Linked DNA regions of Homo sapiens. Changing the gene in region 2 together with the main gene of any one other region gives a genetic interaction. Each region holds a gene or a part of one and is shown on either strand. Other genes may lie near its edges. The genes, in order: LCK, LTB4R, NR5A1 and MAP2K5.

Region 1 (3,563 bases), on a different chromosome or scaffold from region 2:
AACCAGTAACGTGAATATACCTGATAATCCCTTTTACTGAGTCCGCTCCCTTGGGTACTTTGGTGTGCTTTTTGTATCATGGACAGTTTTATTAGGATGGAGCCTTACTTACAGCTTGGCAATCCACACTGCTTTATAAACGTTTCTGGGAGTCTGGCAGCTCTGGAAGCTCAGTTCACCATGTCCATGCCATGGCAACCCAAATTCAATCCAGGTTCTCCCAATCACTTGCTGGCAGAAGGGCACCAGGCGTGGTGGTTCACACCTATAATCCCAGCACTTTGGGAGGCTAAGGTGGGCAGACAGATACGTGAGCCCAGGAGTTTGAGACCAGCCTGGGCAACATGGCAAAACCCCGTCGGTACAAAAAAAATACAAAAATTAGCCGGACTTTGTGTCCCATGCTTGTGGTCCCAGCTACTTGGGAGGCTGAGGTGAGAGGATCACCTGAGATTGGGGAGGTCAAGGCTACAGTTAGCCAAGATTGGGCCACTACGCTCCAGCCTAGGCGACAGAGCAAGACCTTGTCTCAAAAAAACAAAAAAAACAAAAAAAAAAAAAACAAGACTTACTGGCAGAAGGTTGTTGGGCAGCTTACTAAACCTCTGCACTTCCCTCAGTTCCTTCATCAGCAAAATGATGACAAAAATAAGACTTGCATCTAAGGCTGGCTGTGGTGAGCATTATACGTGATATATAGATGATCTCATATAATAAAATGCTTAACATAGTGCTTGCTACATAGACACTGGCCTTAAACATCTTTCAGGCTAAAATGATTGATCATTTTCATTTTCCTTCATGATTTTTGGCACTTCCACGGGCTACCTTTTCACGTTTGATATATGTACCTAAAATGGAAACTTTACTACCATAAATGGAAAACCAGAATCATGAGACATAAATAGAAGTGAAACAACAGCGCACACTAAAATAAACACATAAATTAACATTCGTAAATGGTCATCCATTATCCCCTAAAATCACTTACACACCTGAGTGGTGTACAGGTCATATTTTAGGAAATGCCACACTGCAAGAGAGAACTTTGGGCTTAGGCTGCTGCTTGTGGATTAAAGGAGCTGGCCTATTGACAAAAATGTAATGGGTGAGGTAGGACGATTGCTTGAGACCATACATAGTGTGAGTGCAGCTTGGGCAAAATAGTGAGATCTTATCTCCACACACTTTTTTTTTTTAAGACAGAGTTTTGCTCTTGTTGCCCAGGCTGGAGTGCAATGGCACGATCTCGGTTCACTGCAACCTCCACTTCCCGAGTTCAAGCAATTCTCCTGTCTCAGCCTCCCAAGTAACTGGGATTACAGGCGCCTGCCACCACGCCTGGCTAATTTGTTGTATTTTTAGTAGAGACAGGGTTTCACCATGTTGGCCAGGCTGGTTTCAAACTCCTGACCTCAGATGATGCACCCACCTCACCCTCCCAAAGTGTTGGGAGTTTAGTAGAAACCCCATTTCTACTAAAAATACAAAAGTTAGCCGGGCTTGGTGGCATGTGCCTATAGTCCCAGCTACTTGGGAAGCTGAGGCAGGAGAATTGCTTGAACCCGGAGACAGAGGTTGCAGTGAGCTGAGATAGTGCCACTGCACTCCAGCCTGGGTGACAGAGCAAGACTCCATCTATAAATAACTAAATAAATAAATAAATAAATTGTATTGTTATTATTATGTTTTAATAGAGACGGGGTGTTGCTATGTTGCCCAGGCTAGTCTTGAATGCCTAGTCTCAAGAGATCTTCCTGCCTCAGCCTCCCAAAGTATTGGGATTATAGGCATGAGCCACTGTGCCTGGCCAAGAATTTTTTTATAATTAGCTGGGCATGGTGGTACACATCTGTAGTCCTAGGCTACTCAGGAAGCTGAGGTGGGAGAACCACTCAAGCCCAGGTGTGTGAAGTTACAGTGAGCTATGATCACACCATGTGCCCCAGCCGGGGCAACAGACTGAGACACTGTCTCAAAAAAAAAAAAAAAAAAAATAAATTTAATGGGTACCTCCTATGTGCCAGATTCTGACCTAGAGCTGAGGATGCAGAAGTAAGCAGACAGAGAGCGTCCCATGCATTTGGCCCTGCCCTCTGTGACAGAGGTGGGTGCCCCTCTGGTGGGTCACTTCATTTTCACAGGAGGCTATAAGGCTTGTAGTTAGCTCACTGATCAATAATATCTGTGACTGCCGACAACATGGCCGCACATGACAGCAACACTTGCCAGGAAGTAACATTTCAAAATCACCACCGTTAACCATTTACCAAGCTAACGTTTAGTGAAACAGTTAAAAGGATGAGGTATTTTGTATTGACATGTATTGACACGGAAAGACATCCCGCATACACCATGGCAAGCAAGTTGCAGAACAGAATGCAGAGTATATGCCTATTTGCATTGACATATGTATACAGGGGATTCTTTTAAATAAGCTCTGTGCTAAGCCTTTATTTGCATTATTTCATGTAATTCTCATAATAATCCTATGAAGTGCTATTATTATCCCCATTTTACAGATGCAAAGACTGAGGCCCAAACCAGGTAAAATGATTTGTCTGAGGCCTCATAACAAACAAATGAGCAGTGGAGTTGTGAAGTGAGTCCCGGTCTGCCAGCCTGCAGAGACTAGACTTAACCTCCATGTTTTTCAGCAGCCATACATGGGAAAATCTGGAAGGACACACACCAAATTTTTCACGATGGGCATATCCCAGAAGTGGGATTGGAGGAGGCTGCATTTCTTGTATTTCTTTATATGCCTCTTACTGTTTGAGTTTTAAATTTTATTTTTTTTTTAAATAATTAAATAGAGATGGGGTCTGCCTATGTTGCCCAGGCAGGTCTCAAACTCCTGGGCCCATGTGATCCTCCCATCACGGCCCCCCAAAGTGCTAGGATTACAGGTGCGAGCCACTGTGCCTGGCCTGTTTGAGTGTTTTTAAAACAGCAATGTGCTAATTTTGTAATTAGAAACAAAAACAGCCGGGCGAGGTGGCTCATGCCTGTAATCCCAGCACTTTGGGAGGCTGAGGCAGGCGGATCACCTGAGATCGGGAGTTCAAGATCAGCCTGACCAACATGGAGAAACCCCATCTCTACTAAAAACACAAAATTAGCCGGGCGTGGTGGTCCATGCCTGTAATCCCAGCTACTCGGGAGGCTGAGGCAGCAGAATCACTTGAACCAGGGAGACGGAGGTTGCAGTGAGCCAAGCTCGCACCACTGCACTCCATCCTGGGCAACAAGAGTAAAACTCTGTCTCAAAAAAACAAAAAACAAACAAACCAAAAAAACCCCACAAAACTTAGCCAGACATGGTGGCACACGCCTGTAATCCCAGTTACTGGGGAGGCTAAGGCAGGAGAATCACTGGAACCTGGGAGGTGGAGGTTTACAGACATGCACCACCATGCCTGGCTAATTTTTTGTATTTTTAGTGGAGATGGGGATTCACCATGATGGCCAGGCTGGTTTCGAACTCCTGACCTCAGGTGATCCACCTGCTTTGGCCTCCCAAAGTGCTGGGATTACAGGCGTGAGCCACTGCACTCTGCCGT
Region 2 (4,098 bases):
TGATGTTATCTAACCCAAACCCAGACCCAGGACCTAGTCACAGCTCCAACCTACACTTCCTATTAATCTTAAAACAAAGCAAAACAAAACAAAAAGATATCAGCATTGTAGCCTCCAATCTGAGCCCATTTCCCTTCTCTGGCTACCATACCTCCTTCTCCTATATGATACCATTCACTACTTTGTTCAATTATCCAGTCTAGACCTGCATCTTGAGGCCACACCCAGCCTTCTCACTCCCCACACCCCTCTTTCCTCTCTCACTGCTCCTTCCTGGTCTCTTCTCATCTGGCCCCACCTCTAAGGAGTCCTCCTGCCTTCTGGGTTGCCCTGGAAAACAGACTATCCCCCCTCCTAGTGAAGGGAGTGGGTAGGGGTTTCAGCCCCACCCTCAGGAAGATGCGTCTTCCCTGTCCTCTGCTCTGTGGTACTTCCTCTCTGGCTGATTTAGCAAACAGCACCTAGACCTGGGGCCAGGCCTTTGGCAGTGGGACAGATCCAGGGATAGGCTACACCACCCTGCCCTGACCCTGGGATTGGCATCAGCTTCCAACCAGTTCCTGCCAAAGCTTGTAAGTAAGTTTCCTGGGAGCGGCCGTGGTTGTGGTGGTGGTGGGACAGTGTGCAGCCATGAAAGAAGGTGCAAAGGAATCTCCAAAGAAAGCCTGACCAGCGTAAAAAGTTGGGAGGCTTTGTCCTTGTCACTTGTCCACTAAACTCCTCCCCTCCCTGTTATTCCTGGTTGACCCTGGGCATCTCTGGGGACAGTAGGCAGGTGATTGGGAAAGTTAATGGGATTGAGGGGCTGAGGGCCTGGCAGGGGGCAAAAAGACTGGCCTTTCAAGGGGTGCAGCATTGGTAGGAACTCTGTTTGGTTCTGGGCTTTAGGGTCTCCTAAGGGGAGGAGACTGAAAAGGTCTGGAAATGCTGCTGCTGCTGTGGTCACTGTATATTTTGCAATTGGGTCTGTGGACAGGAAGGGGCCGCATGACCCAGTTAGGAAACTAGTCTTTGTACTCAACCAGATCCCTTTAAGTTGTCAGTCTGCAGCGATGGGGGCAGTATATTTCAGGGGGACCTCTGATGCTGCTGACCCTGGAGATAGACTAGAGTTCTCAGCCTAGGTGTGTCCATGGCGTCAGGAAACCCTTGGTCCTCTACTCTCATGCGTGTGTCCGCCCTCACTCTCCAGGTCCTCCCGACGGCCATGAACACTACATCTTCTGCAGCACCCCCCTCACTAGGTGTAGAGTTCATCTCTCTGCTGGCTATCATCCTGCTGTCAGTGGCGCTGGCTGTGGGGCTTCCCGGCAACAGCTTTGTGGTGTGGAGTATCCTGAAAAGGATGCAGAAGCGCTCTGTCACTGCCCTGATGGTGCTGAACCTGGCCCTGGCCGACCTGGCCGTATTGCTCACTGCTCCCTTTTTCCTTCACTTCCTGGCCCAAGGCACCTGGAGTTTTGGACTGGCTGGTTGCCGCCTGTGTCACTATGTCTGCGGAGTCAGCATGTACGCCAGCGTCCTGCTTATCACGGCCATGAGTCTAGACCGCTCACTGGCGGTGGCCCGCCCCTTTGTGTCCCAGAAGCTACGCACCAAGGCGATGGCCCGGCGGGTGCTGGCAGGCATCTGGGTGTTGTCCTTTCTGCTGGCCACACCCGTCCTCGCGTACCGCACAGTAGTGCCCTGGAAAACGAACATGAGCCTGTGCTTCCCGCGGTACCCCAGCGAAGGGCACCGGGCCTTCCATCTAATCTTCGAGGCTGTCACGGGCTTCCTGCTGCCCTTCCTGGCTGTGGTGGCCAGCTACTCGGACATAGGGCGTCGGCTACAGGCCCGGCGCTTCCGCCGCAGCCGCCGCACCGGCCGCCTGGTGGTGCTCATCATCCTGACCTTCGCCGCCTTCTGGCTGCCCTACCACGTGGTGAACCTGGCTGAGGCGGGCCGCGCGCTGGCCGGCCAGGCCGCCGGGTTAGGGCTCGTGGGGAAGCGGCTGAGCCTGGCCCGCAACGTGCTCATCGCACTCGCCTTCCTGAGCAGCAGCGTGAACCCCGTGCTGTACGCGTGCGCCGGCGGCGGCCTGCTGCGCTCGGCGGGCGTGGGCTTCGTCGCCAAGCTGCTGGAGGGCACGGGCTCCGAGGCGTCCAGCACGCGCCGCGGGGGCAGCCTGGGCCAGACCGCTAGGAGCGGCCCCGCCGCTCTGGAGCCCGGCCCTTCCGAGAGCCTCACTGCCTCCAGCCCTCTCAAGTTAAACGAACTGAACTAGGCCTGGTGGAAGGAGGCGCACTTTCCTCCTGGCAGAATGCTAGCTCTGAGCCAGTTCAGTACCTGGAGGAGGAGCAGGGGCGTGGAGGGCGTGGAGGGCGTGGGAGCGTGGGAGGCGGGAGTGGAGTGGAAGAAGAGGGAGAGGTGGAGCAAAGTGAGGGCCGAGTGAGAGCGTGCTCCAGCCTGGCTCCCACAGGCAGCTTTAACCATTAAAACTGAAGTCTGAAATTTGGTCAACCTTGTGAGTGGGGTACATGTGCTGTGGGTATCGGGGTGCTCGTGGGCGCCCTGGTGGGGCCCCTCTCGGTAGTTGAGAGTCACGTCCTTTAGTTCCCCATGATTTACAATTTTGGAAGGGACACAAAGAAACATAGACTTCCCCCATCCCAGATGATTCCGAGTACATAGTCTGCAGATAATACTTAGCAAAACGCAGTCTACAGACTCCTAAAGCAGCTTGTCTAGGAAGACCACCCATGTGGGCTTATCACTCCAGGTTCTGTGACCCGGGACCTTCTGAGAAAACAGCACTGCTGTGAAATATCTTCCTTGAAGCCTGTGATAAGTCTCCTTGTTAGAATGACTCCAACTTCCTGCCAATAATCTTTGTCCTCTCCATAGGAGATGTTCTAGGGGATGCCTTCCTTCCCTCCATTTCACAAAGAGGCCAGACTTGAGGACTAAGTCATTAGATCTTATCCCTTAGAATTTTGCATATCAGCATCTGCTAACCTCCACAACACACCCTGGCACAGGGTGGGGCTGAGGGCCCCAGGAAACAAAGATTCCCAAAAGTGAGAGGGATGAGTCATTATTTCCTAGAGATGACTGTTGTTTTAGAGAACCTTGGTCCAACTCTGTTCTGACAAGGTTTTAGGAAGATGGCAACAACAGTGGCAGCAGTGTACTTTTTGGATCTTTCTCATAAAAAAACAAAAGAGCAAGTAAGAGAGGGAAACCAAATATCCACATGCAACATCCGCAACAAATCTAGTATGTCAAGGTTTGACATACTCCCATGGACCCCAAAGTATGAGCCAGTGAGAATGAGTCATCAATATCTCAAGACCCATATACCAGCATCTGTGCAGAAGGATGCAGAAGGAAGCAAAGGGATGTTGGATGGACCTAAGAAGAGGAGATCCCCAAGCTGTCTACAGATCCTTACTGGAAGGTATGGTGCACCAATTTGAGAACAGCAGCTGAAACTGGGAGGGACCTAACGGAGTATTTCCCAGTCCTCTCGCCCATTCTGTATGGTGAGCACATAATAGGTACTTATTTAGTGTTTGTCGAATTAATAAAGTTCAAATGACATTTCCCTGGAGATTCTTCCGGTATTTTTGAGTAGGGGGCAGGAAAGGGCAAATTTTTGTTTTGAGTCATGTGGCTAAATTCTTTATGCTTCCAAGGTGTACAAAATACTATAATCAAGTTGGCAGAGAGGCTGAGGGAGTTCTCTTCCTGAGCTTGTGAAAAAAATCACTCCCTTTCAAAATGCTTAGTCTCACATGCATGCATGTGTGCAGGCATGTGCACACACATTCACACACACACTCGCACTAAAATTGGCCTGGGAAGAAGAAGAATTCCCACTGAAGGGCAATGAGAAGGTGATCCCCAGCTATATCAGCAGCTTCAGACATCAATGGGCTCCAGACACCCCAGAGTCTCTTTATTGAGGTTCTTAGAAGGCGAGTGCAATCTCAGCCTAGGGTAGCTGAAGGAGGTCCAGTTCGTGTCAAGTCTGTGTTCAGGAAGTAGGTGCAGAGCTGCCCTTTGCCTTTCACCTTGATGACACCCCGGCTGTAGCAGGTGTAGCCCAGGGACTGT
Region 3 (4,102 bases), on a different chromosome or scaffold from region 2:
GAAGTCCGGAGGAGGGAAGCGCGAAGAGCCAGGGCCCGGGACGCGAGAGGGGGCGCGACGGCGGCTGCGGTCGGCCCGGCGCCCACCTGGTCGCTCCTGCGAGCAGCGCCCCGCGTCCCGCCCGCGCGGAGCCCGCACCTCTCGGCCGCGCCGCCGCCGCCGGCGAGGAGCCGCACCCGGGCGCAGCGCCGCCCGCCCGCGATGACGGCCGCTCGGGCCGGGGACGGGGAGGCGGGGGCGCGGGGCTGGCGGCGCGGGGGCCTCGGCTCCCCCCTCCCGCCTCCCCGCCCCCCATCCTGCCTCCCTGTTCCCCCCCGCACCGCCGCCGGGGCCGCTCCGAGGCGCACCTGGGACCCGGGCCCCTCAGCCGCCACCCCGCCCTGCGCCAACCCGCCGCGCCGGGGCCGGGGGCCGGCCCCTCTATATCGGCGCGTGCGGTATCCGGGGGCGGAGGCCCGGTCGTGTCCTCCCCCCAAGCCCGGCCCGCGCCGGCACCCTCTCCGCAGTCCAGCTCGAGTCTTCGCCCTCATCCTCCAGGCCCCCCAGCCGCAGCCCGGCTCCCCGGACCCCGAGCGCGGCCAGAGAGCTGCGGAGCCCGAGTGCCCCGCGATCTGGGCAGGTATAGGGCAGTGGGGGCCTTGGGTCACCCGCCTGCAGTGGGAGGAGGCAGCTCCTGTCTGTGAACCCAGCTGGGTCGTGGCGAATGCCACGCGGGTGGCTGGTCGCACTACAGCGTGGAAGTGGGTAAGGGCGAGTGGCGACCGTGGCCGAGGCTCGGATTCACGGGTGGAAGCCAGATTCTCCCATGGGGCCCACCACATCTCCTCACTCGAGCCTGTAGCAGCTCTCTCCCCGTCTCGGGTCTTCAGTTGCCGCATCTGTGAAGTGGGTAGATGACCGCTCTTCCTCGCTAAGGGTGGGTCGTGAGGATGAACCCAAGCAGTAGGGGCAAAGCACGCGTGTGGCCTGGCGGAAGCGCTCAGTGGCGCCCCTCTGGGGAGATCTGGGGCGAACCCCTTCTGCTCGCTAGCCTCAGGTCGCTGGGCTGGAAATGGGACTCGTGGAAATCCCATTTTACAAATGTCCGAGGCCTGGGGGGACCCGAAGCCTCTACGGGCGCAGGAGCTGGGAGAGGAGCCCGGAGGCAGGGCCCCGCTGCTCCCCTCGGAGCTCTCACGGGGGGGTGGGGCGAGGAAGAAAGCGCTGGGCGGTCTTGGGGACAAAGGGGTTCCCGGGCCTATGGGCCAAGCAGTTGCTCTGGGCTAGGGACCATCCGCGGGGCCACTGTTTTTCAGCTGGAGAAACGGACCCGAAAGGAAGGGGCCTGCTTGCATCCTGCCTCCGCCCCCGCTGGCACCTGGGGTCAGAGAGAGTTTGGGGACCATGAGGCCAAAAAGCTGCGATCTTCAAGCAGGAAAATACCGCAATTTTGCATTGACAGCGGCGCAACCCACCAAAAGGCTCCATCTGGGCTCCCGCCCGCCTGGAGGCCTCGGGCTTCGGTTGGAGCTGGGCCTGGGGCCTGCAAGTTGTGGCCAGAGAACCCCCCGCGCAGACCGCACTCAGCTGGCTCACCCACAGAAGGAGCAGAACCCGCAGACTAGCTGTGCAAGCTCGGGCAAGTCACTTCTCCTCTCTGAAACGAGAGCCTCAGTTTTCTCCGAGCATAAAGTGGAACATGTTGGCTTTACAGATGGGGTACTGCGGTTTCCATGCAAGAATCTTGGATGAGGAGGGAAGAAAGAGCCAGAGACCCTGTTAATCGTACCCCCCGCACCCCCAAACCCCTGAGAAACAAGAGCATCTGCCCGAGCTGGAGGTGGGGGTCACTGCCGCCTCTGAACAGCTCCCCACCACAATGGAGCCCTCAGACAGTGACTGCAGGAGGGAAGGGGGTTGGTGGATGATGGGCTGGGGTGCCCCAGTTGGCTGTTCTAAGGTAGAGCTCACCCGAGGTCTCCTGGAAACCTGGAGCTGGACACACAGGCCCCAGCCGCCGGGGTTGGGTGGGGGCTGGGCTCAGGCCCTTCTCCCTCTATCTCCAATCCCCTCTCCCCAAGGGTTTCTACTCTCACCGGCTGGAAGCCCATGGCTCCTCTGCACTCCAGGCTCCGAGGCACCCACCCCCACAGGTTCCAGGTTCCAGCCCACCGCCTGGGGAGTTCCAGCCCCTCATCCACCCACCCAGGGAGGGAAGCCTAGACCTGGCCCGGCCGCAGAACCCAGGCTGACAGATGGATGCCGGAGACAGACACACGGATACACAGCAAGACTCAGAGAGAGCCACAGAGACAACACAGAAACTCAGGTGGGGGACAGAGCCCCAAGACAGGCCCAGAGCCCTCCAGACACACTCACAGACCTCTAGGCTCAGACCCACACAGCCTGGTGGATGCCTGGCCAGAGACAGCGGGACACCAGCGGACCTCCATGGGGCTTGTGGTCACAGGCCTGGCTCCTCCCATCGGCAGCCCAGGGAAGAAGAGGGGGTAGCATGGTGGGAGGGTGAGTCTGGGAGACCCCTGGCACCTTCCCTGCCCAGAGCAGGGGGCACCGGTCACTAAGTGGAGCAGGCAGTGGCCGGCCCAGGCTGCAGGGAGGCACTGCAGAAGGAGGCTGGCCATTAGAGGCCTGGGCCAAGGCCCTCACTTACGAAGCGGAAGCAGCGCTCTCACACCGGATGAGGGTGGCAGTGGGCACCAGGGGTCCAGGGGGAGGCTCCGGCAGCCCAGGTGGGACGGTGGCGACTGTGGGTGCGCAGAAACCCCCTCACACCACGGCGGGCGGCAGCCGGACAGCAGGCTGGCCCTGTCCGTCCGTCCTCCTCCTCCTCCCCGCCCTGGTGGGGGGGCCACCGGAGGCCCAATTGGTCTCTGCCCCCACGTGACTCTGCAGGCCTCTCGCCTTCTTTGTTGGTGTTTCTCTTCATTTACGTCTATTTTTTCTTCTTCTCCTAAAAGAAAAAAAATACCCCTATCTATCTGGGGGCTGAGGGTGGGGGCGGAGGCCAAGGCACTGCAGAGGCCTTGGCCAGCTGGCTGTTCCAGGCCCGCTGTGGGAGCCCAGAGGCAGGGACCCCACAGAGGCGGGTAGGCAGCCCCGCTTGTTAGAAACCGGGTGGGAGTGGGGCTTGATTTATGGGCTGCTCCCCCACCCGGCCTGCCGCCTGCTCCTCTCTCCTTGTGAATGGCTACCTCCCTGGGGCCTGGCCTGGCATGGTCTGGCCCAGCCCGGACATTGGAGTAGAGTCAGGACAGGCCAGTGCGGAGGCAAGGCCATGGCGACTTGACTAGGCGGCCTGCTGCTTCCACCTCTTTTTCCTCTTCCATCAGGTGGAAGAAGAGGGGGGCCGGAAGGGGAGCAGGTGAGCGGCCTGGACACCTGGTGCGTGCATGCCACGGTGGCCTCTGAATGTCCTCATCTGCTGTGGGCTGCTGATGTTCCCAGTCGATGGCTGGAAAAACTGAGGCTGGGCTGAGACTGCCTCTGAGGCCAAGTGGTGGCTATAGTGGCCCCAGGTTGAACCAAGTATGAAGCTAGTCCAGGATAGGACAGGGTAGCAGGAAGGGGCCCTTATCTAGAAGGCTAGGCCTCCCTAGACAACCTGGGACGTCCCCATCCAATCTCTGGGCCCAGATGGGCTCTGAAATATCCTGTTCCTGTAGGGCCCGGGTTGCAGGGTGTTGTGCCGCTCCCACGGTGACTGGATCTTTTGTGTGTTCCTCTGTTTGTCTCACATTTACTGAGCGCACACTTAGGGGTCAGGCACTGTTCCAGGCACCAGGGATCCCATAGGAAAGAGAAGAAAAGTCTCTGTCCTCAGAGGATTTACCTCCGTGCCTTTCATCTTGGGAGAGCAGGGAGGGGCACAGGGTGACTATGGGGCAGTCACTGTTGAGAACCACCCCTCCTCCCACATATCCCTTCATTGGAGGAAATAAATAAATCACACCCAACACCTCACTTATCTGGAACAAGAGGGACTTTTCTGGATAAGTGAAGTGAAGCCAACTCTCCCTATATATATTTTTTCATGGAAGGCCACTGAAAAAGTAGAAACGCCAACTATATTTAAAACCTATGTGTTTTCCAGCCAGTCACT
Region 4 (3,563 bases), on a different chromosome or scaffold from region 2:
CCAGTAACCTCATATTTCCTAAAGTTATCGGGTCAGGAATTACTATAAAGCTAGTCAATGTTCACACTTATTAATATTTAACATATCTTTTAACAATGTAGAGGACTTAGCCATGACCTGGGAGTTACTATCCAAGGCAACTGTGCTACTTGGAATGAGGAGAACATGTTATTACATCAGAATTATGGCCAGGCATGGTGGCTCATGCCTTTCATCCCAGCACTTGGAGAAGTGGTGGTGGGAGGATTGCTTGAGCTCAGGAGTTTGACACCAGCCTGGGCAACACTGTGATACCTTGTCGCTATTAAAAAATTAAAAAAAAATGCCCAGCGTGGTGGCACATGCCTGTAGCCCCAGCTACTCAGGAGCTGAGGCGAGAGAACTGCTCCAGCCTGGGGACATAAAGGCTGCAGTGAGCACACACTGCACTCCAGCCTGGGTGATAGAGTGAGACTCTGTCTCCAAAATAAATAAATAAATAAATAAATAAGGAAACAATCATTTTCTCCTATCCTTCCTACTTGTTCAGTCTAAAGATTCTTTTTAACATGGGGCCTAACCATAAAATTTAAGATCTGAGGGCCTCTAACCAACTAGGTAGACACAGGAAATATACCCAGTATGTCTACATGTCGATTATGTAAATTTGCATAATTTCACTTATCTACATATGATAAAATGTACATTCGATGTAGACAGGTAGCAAAAAGCAAAAGACTACCAAAAACTAGAAACAATTACACCATAGCATATTAAAAAAACACAGAAATAAAAAGACAGTCTCATATTCTGAAATATTTAAATTTGGCTTAGAAAGACTATGTTTAACAATTTATTGCAGCCTAGTGGGTTTTATGCTAAGACTACATATGACAATGACATCTCATATAATTTCCTCCTTTAAGTATCCTCTCCCCATAACATACTCCTCTCCACTCCAAAACAAGCCCTCCAAACTACTCCCATGCACACTCTAATTATATTTTAATATATATGCCTTTCCATTTTAATCATATTATAATTTAAATGAAATTCTTACTCAAAGGGCATAGTAAGCACTTATAAGCTGTGTGACTCTGAAGTTACTTAACCTCTCTGAATCTCAATATTCTCATCTATAAATTGGAAACAGTAATACCTAATAGGCAGAACTATCAGGAGGATTACAGATGATGATGCGTAAAGCAATATTAATGCCTTAACAGAGCAGACATCTAAAAATGGTTGTGATTATCATGGGAAGAAGCATAATGCGATGAACAGTGAGAATGACAGGACTGCTCACAAAAGGAAAGAAAACAAACAAAACTTGAAAGAATTTGGATGAAGATAACTAAAAAAAATTTTTTAGAGACAAATGAAGACCCACAACATTGGAAGTGTGTGTGTGTGTGTGTGTGTGTGTGTGTGTTTTGAGACAATGTATTGCTCTGTCACTCAGGCTGGAGTACAGTGGCACAAACATGGCTCACTGTAGCCTCAACCTCTTGGGCTCAAGCCATCCTCCCACCTCAGCCCACCAAGTAGCTGGGACAACAGGAGTGTGCACCACGCCCGGCTAATTTTTGTATTTTTTTGGTAGAGACAGGGTTTTGACATGTTGCCCAAGCTGGTCTCAAACTCTTGAGCTCAAGCAATCCACCTGCCTCAGCTTCCCAAAGTGCTGAGATTACAGGCATGAACCACTGTGCCCTGCCTGGAAGTATATTTCTCCAGGATACTGCAATTAGGGTTTTCTATGGCAGAGCTATAATGTCAATAGAGAAATTAATGGAAATTTTCAGTTTGTAAAATACTACTCCTTGTGAAGAAAGAATTTTGAAACTTGCCCAAATTCTCCAGTCACTGCAAACATTAAGAAATAATCTGCCTCCTGGCTGGGCGTGGTGGCTCACGCCTGTAATCCCAGCACTTTGGGAGGCCGAGGGGAGTGGATCATGAGGTCAGGAGATCAAGACCATCCTGGCCAACATGGTAAAACCCTGTCTCTGCTAAAAATACAAAAATTAGCTGGGTGTGGTGACACGAGCCTGTAATCCCAGCTACTCAGGAGGCTGAGGCAGGAGAATCACTTGAACCAGGGAGTCAGAGGTTGCGGTGAGCTGAGATTGCACCACTGCACTCCAGCCTGGTGGCAGAGCGAGACTCTGTCTCGAAAAAAAAAAAAAAAAAAAAGAAATCATCTACATCCTAATCATTGGACTAATAAACAGAAATAGCAACATTTCTTTTTTTCTGTTTTGGTGCTTAATCTTCAAGTACAACAGAAGTGGATTAATCACAATCCTTGTTTTGGACTATCACTGGCCTTAAATAGCCCAACTGTACTTACTTAGCACTTCAATAAGTTACTAGTAATATACTAAGCACTCCTGATTCTGCTGCCCACACATATGCTGGAAGAGCAGTATTATTCTTGAACCCAGATCTTCTTGTGGGTTGGCCAAGACAGCTGCCTTTGGAGACTTTATCAGTGCAAATAGGAGCCTACTGGTTAATTGAGCCATTCAAACTTCAGAGAGTTACAGGTAATGAAAGTCTAGAATGTTTAATTGGAAAACTCATACCATGATTATTTGTACAGTATCAGTTAACGAAGGTAAGTTTAACTTTTAATTATTTCAATTAAGTTATTTCTAGAAGGGTTACTTAGAGAATTTCCTTATCTGTTCCATTAGTTAGAAAACATGGATTCCAAGTGGGGCAATGTATAACGGGTGAAAGACTTAATGGTTTATATAATTAAACTGTTCTTGTTCACCATTATTCAAATTTTGAGGGAACATTTATACACGGTTGAACAATCATATCTGATACAAGGATAGTACTGCCAAACCTAAAAGGGAAAAAGAAAATTATCTGACCAAGTGATTCACTGAAACTTACTCTCATCAGCTCATATTTTTGGAGATAATCAAATTTCCATTTATGAAGAATTTCAATTATTTAGAAAATACCTCCTCAAAAAACCAGATACCAAACATTCCACCAAAATTTCTCTCCTAACACCTCAGTAAATCTTCGCTTCTGTGCTAACTGAAAGCTTTCTCCTCAATAGCAGCTTTGGCCACCATCATGAGCCACAATTTATAAATATCCAGAATTAAAGTCATTCATTTGCCTTGCTTTAGAAACCATGTGGACCCCCAAAAGAGTTCTTTAAGCTAATGTAAGTATGTACTTCAAAAACAAAAAACAATCTAGTTAGTTTAATTTACTCTAGTAAATTAGATATTTTATCTGCCATAACTATAATATAGCCTGCAATCCCCACGATAATGAATACTTCTTTTGTTTTTCGAATTAAGAGCTAAACATCATGTTATGTGCATTTAAACCTTTGGAAACATAACTGTTGATGAAACAGTTTACTGAAATAATCATTGTTGATTAGAATTTGCTCAACATTACCTCTTGGAAATATCTGCAGAGGCTCTATTAACTGTCCATTTACTTGCTGTTCCATTACTGTGGAATAATACTGCAAAGAGATTATAGAAAGAGATCACTCAGTAATGTATGAATACTGGAACAGACACTTATGGGTTGTTTAATTCACAGTA

The links.
Region 1: changes in LTB4R (region 2) and LCK together harm fitness more than expected from each alone (negative genetic interaction), as found in Homo sapiens cells (one large-scale study listed by BioGRID).
Region 3: changes in LTB4R (region 2) and NR5A1 together harm fitness less than expected from each alone (positive genetic interaction), as found in Homo sapiens cells (one large-scale study listed by BioGRID).
Region 4: changes in LTB4R (region 2) and MAP2K5 together harm fitness less than expected from each alone (positive genetic interaction), as found in Homo sapiens cells (one large-scale study listed by BioGRID).

The regions. Positions count from the first base shown.
Region 1 is NC_000001.11:32,254,235-32,257,797, reverse strand, and holds part of LCK (tyrosine-protein kinase Lck), read right to left. Parts: intron 1-3,563. UniProt on the Homo sapiens protein: Non-receptor tyrosine-protein kinase that plays an essential role in the selection and maturation of developing T-cells in the thymus and in the function of mature T-cells. Plays a key role in T-cell antigen receptor (TCR)-linked signal transduction pathways.
Region 2 is NC_000014.9:24,314,445-24,318,542, forward strand, and holds the end of LTB4R (leukotriene B4 receptor 1), read left to right. Parts: exon of another isoform or gene 1-576; intron 577-1,192; 5' UTR 1,193-1,207; coding exon 1,208-2,266; 3' UTR 2,267-3,592; downstream 3,593-4,098. Other genes in the region: ADCY4 (adenylate cyclase type 4), read right to left, coding at 3,972-4,098. UniProt on the Homo sapiens protein: Receptor for extracellular ATP > UTP and ADP. The activity of this receptor is mediated by G proteins which activate a phosphatidylinositol-calcium second messenger system.
Region 3 is NC_000009.12:124,504,596-124,508,697, forward strand, and holds the start of NR5A1 (steroidogenic factor 1), read right to left. Parts: upstream 2,805-4,102; 5' UTR 2,654-2,804; intron 1-2,653. UniProt on the Homo sapiens protein: Transcriptional activator. Essential for sexual differentiation and formation of the primary steroidogenic tissues. Binds to the Ad4 site found in the promoter region of steroidogenic P450 genes such as CYP11A, CYP11B and CYP21B.
Region 4 is NC_000015.10:67,580,672-67,584,234, reverse strand, and holds part of MAP2K5 (dual specificity mitogen-activated protein kinase kinase 5), read right to left. Parts: intron 3,482-3,563; coding exon 3,412-3,481; intron 1-3,411. UniProt on the Homo sapiens protein: Acts as a scaffold for the formation of a ternary MAP3K2/MAP3K3-MAP3K5-MAPK7 signaling complex.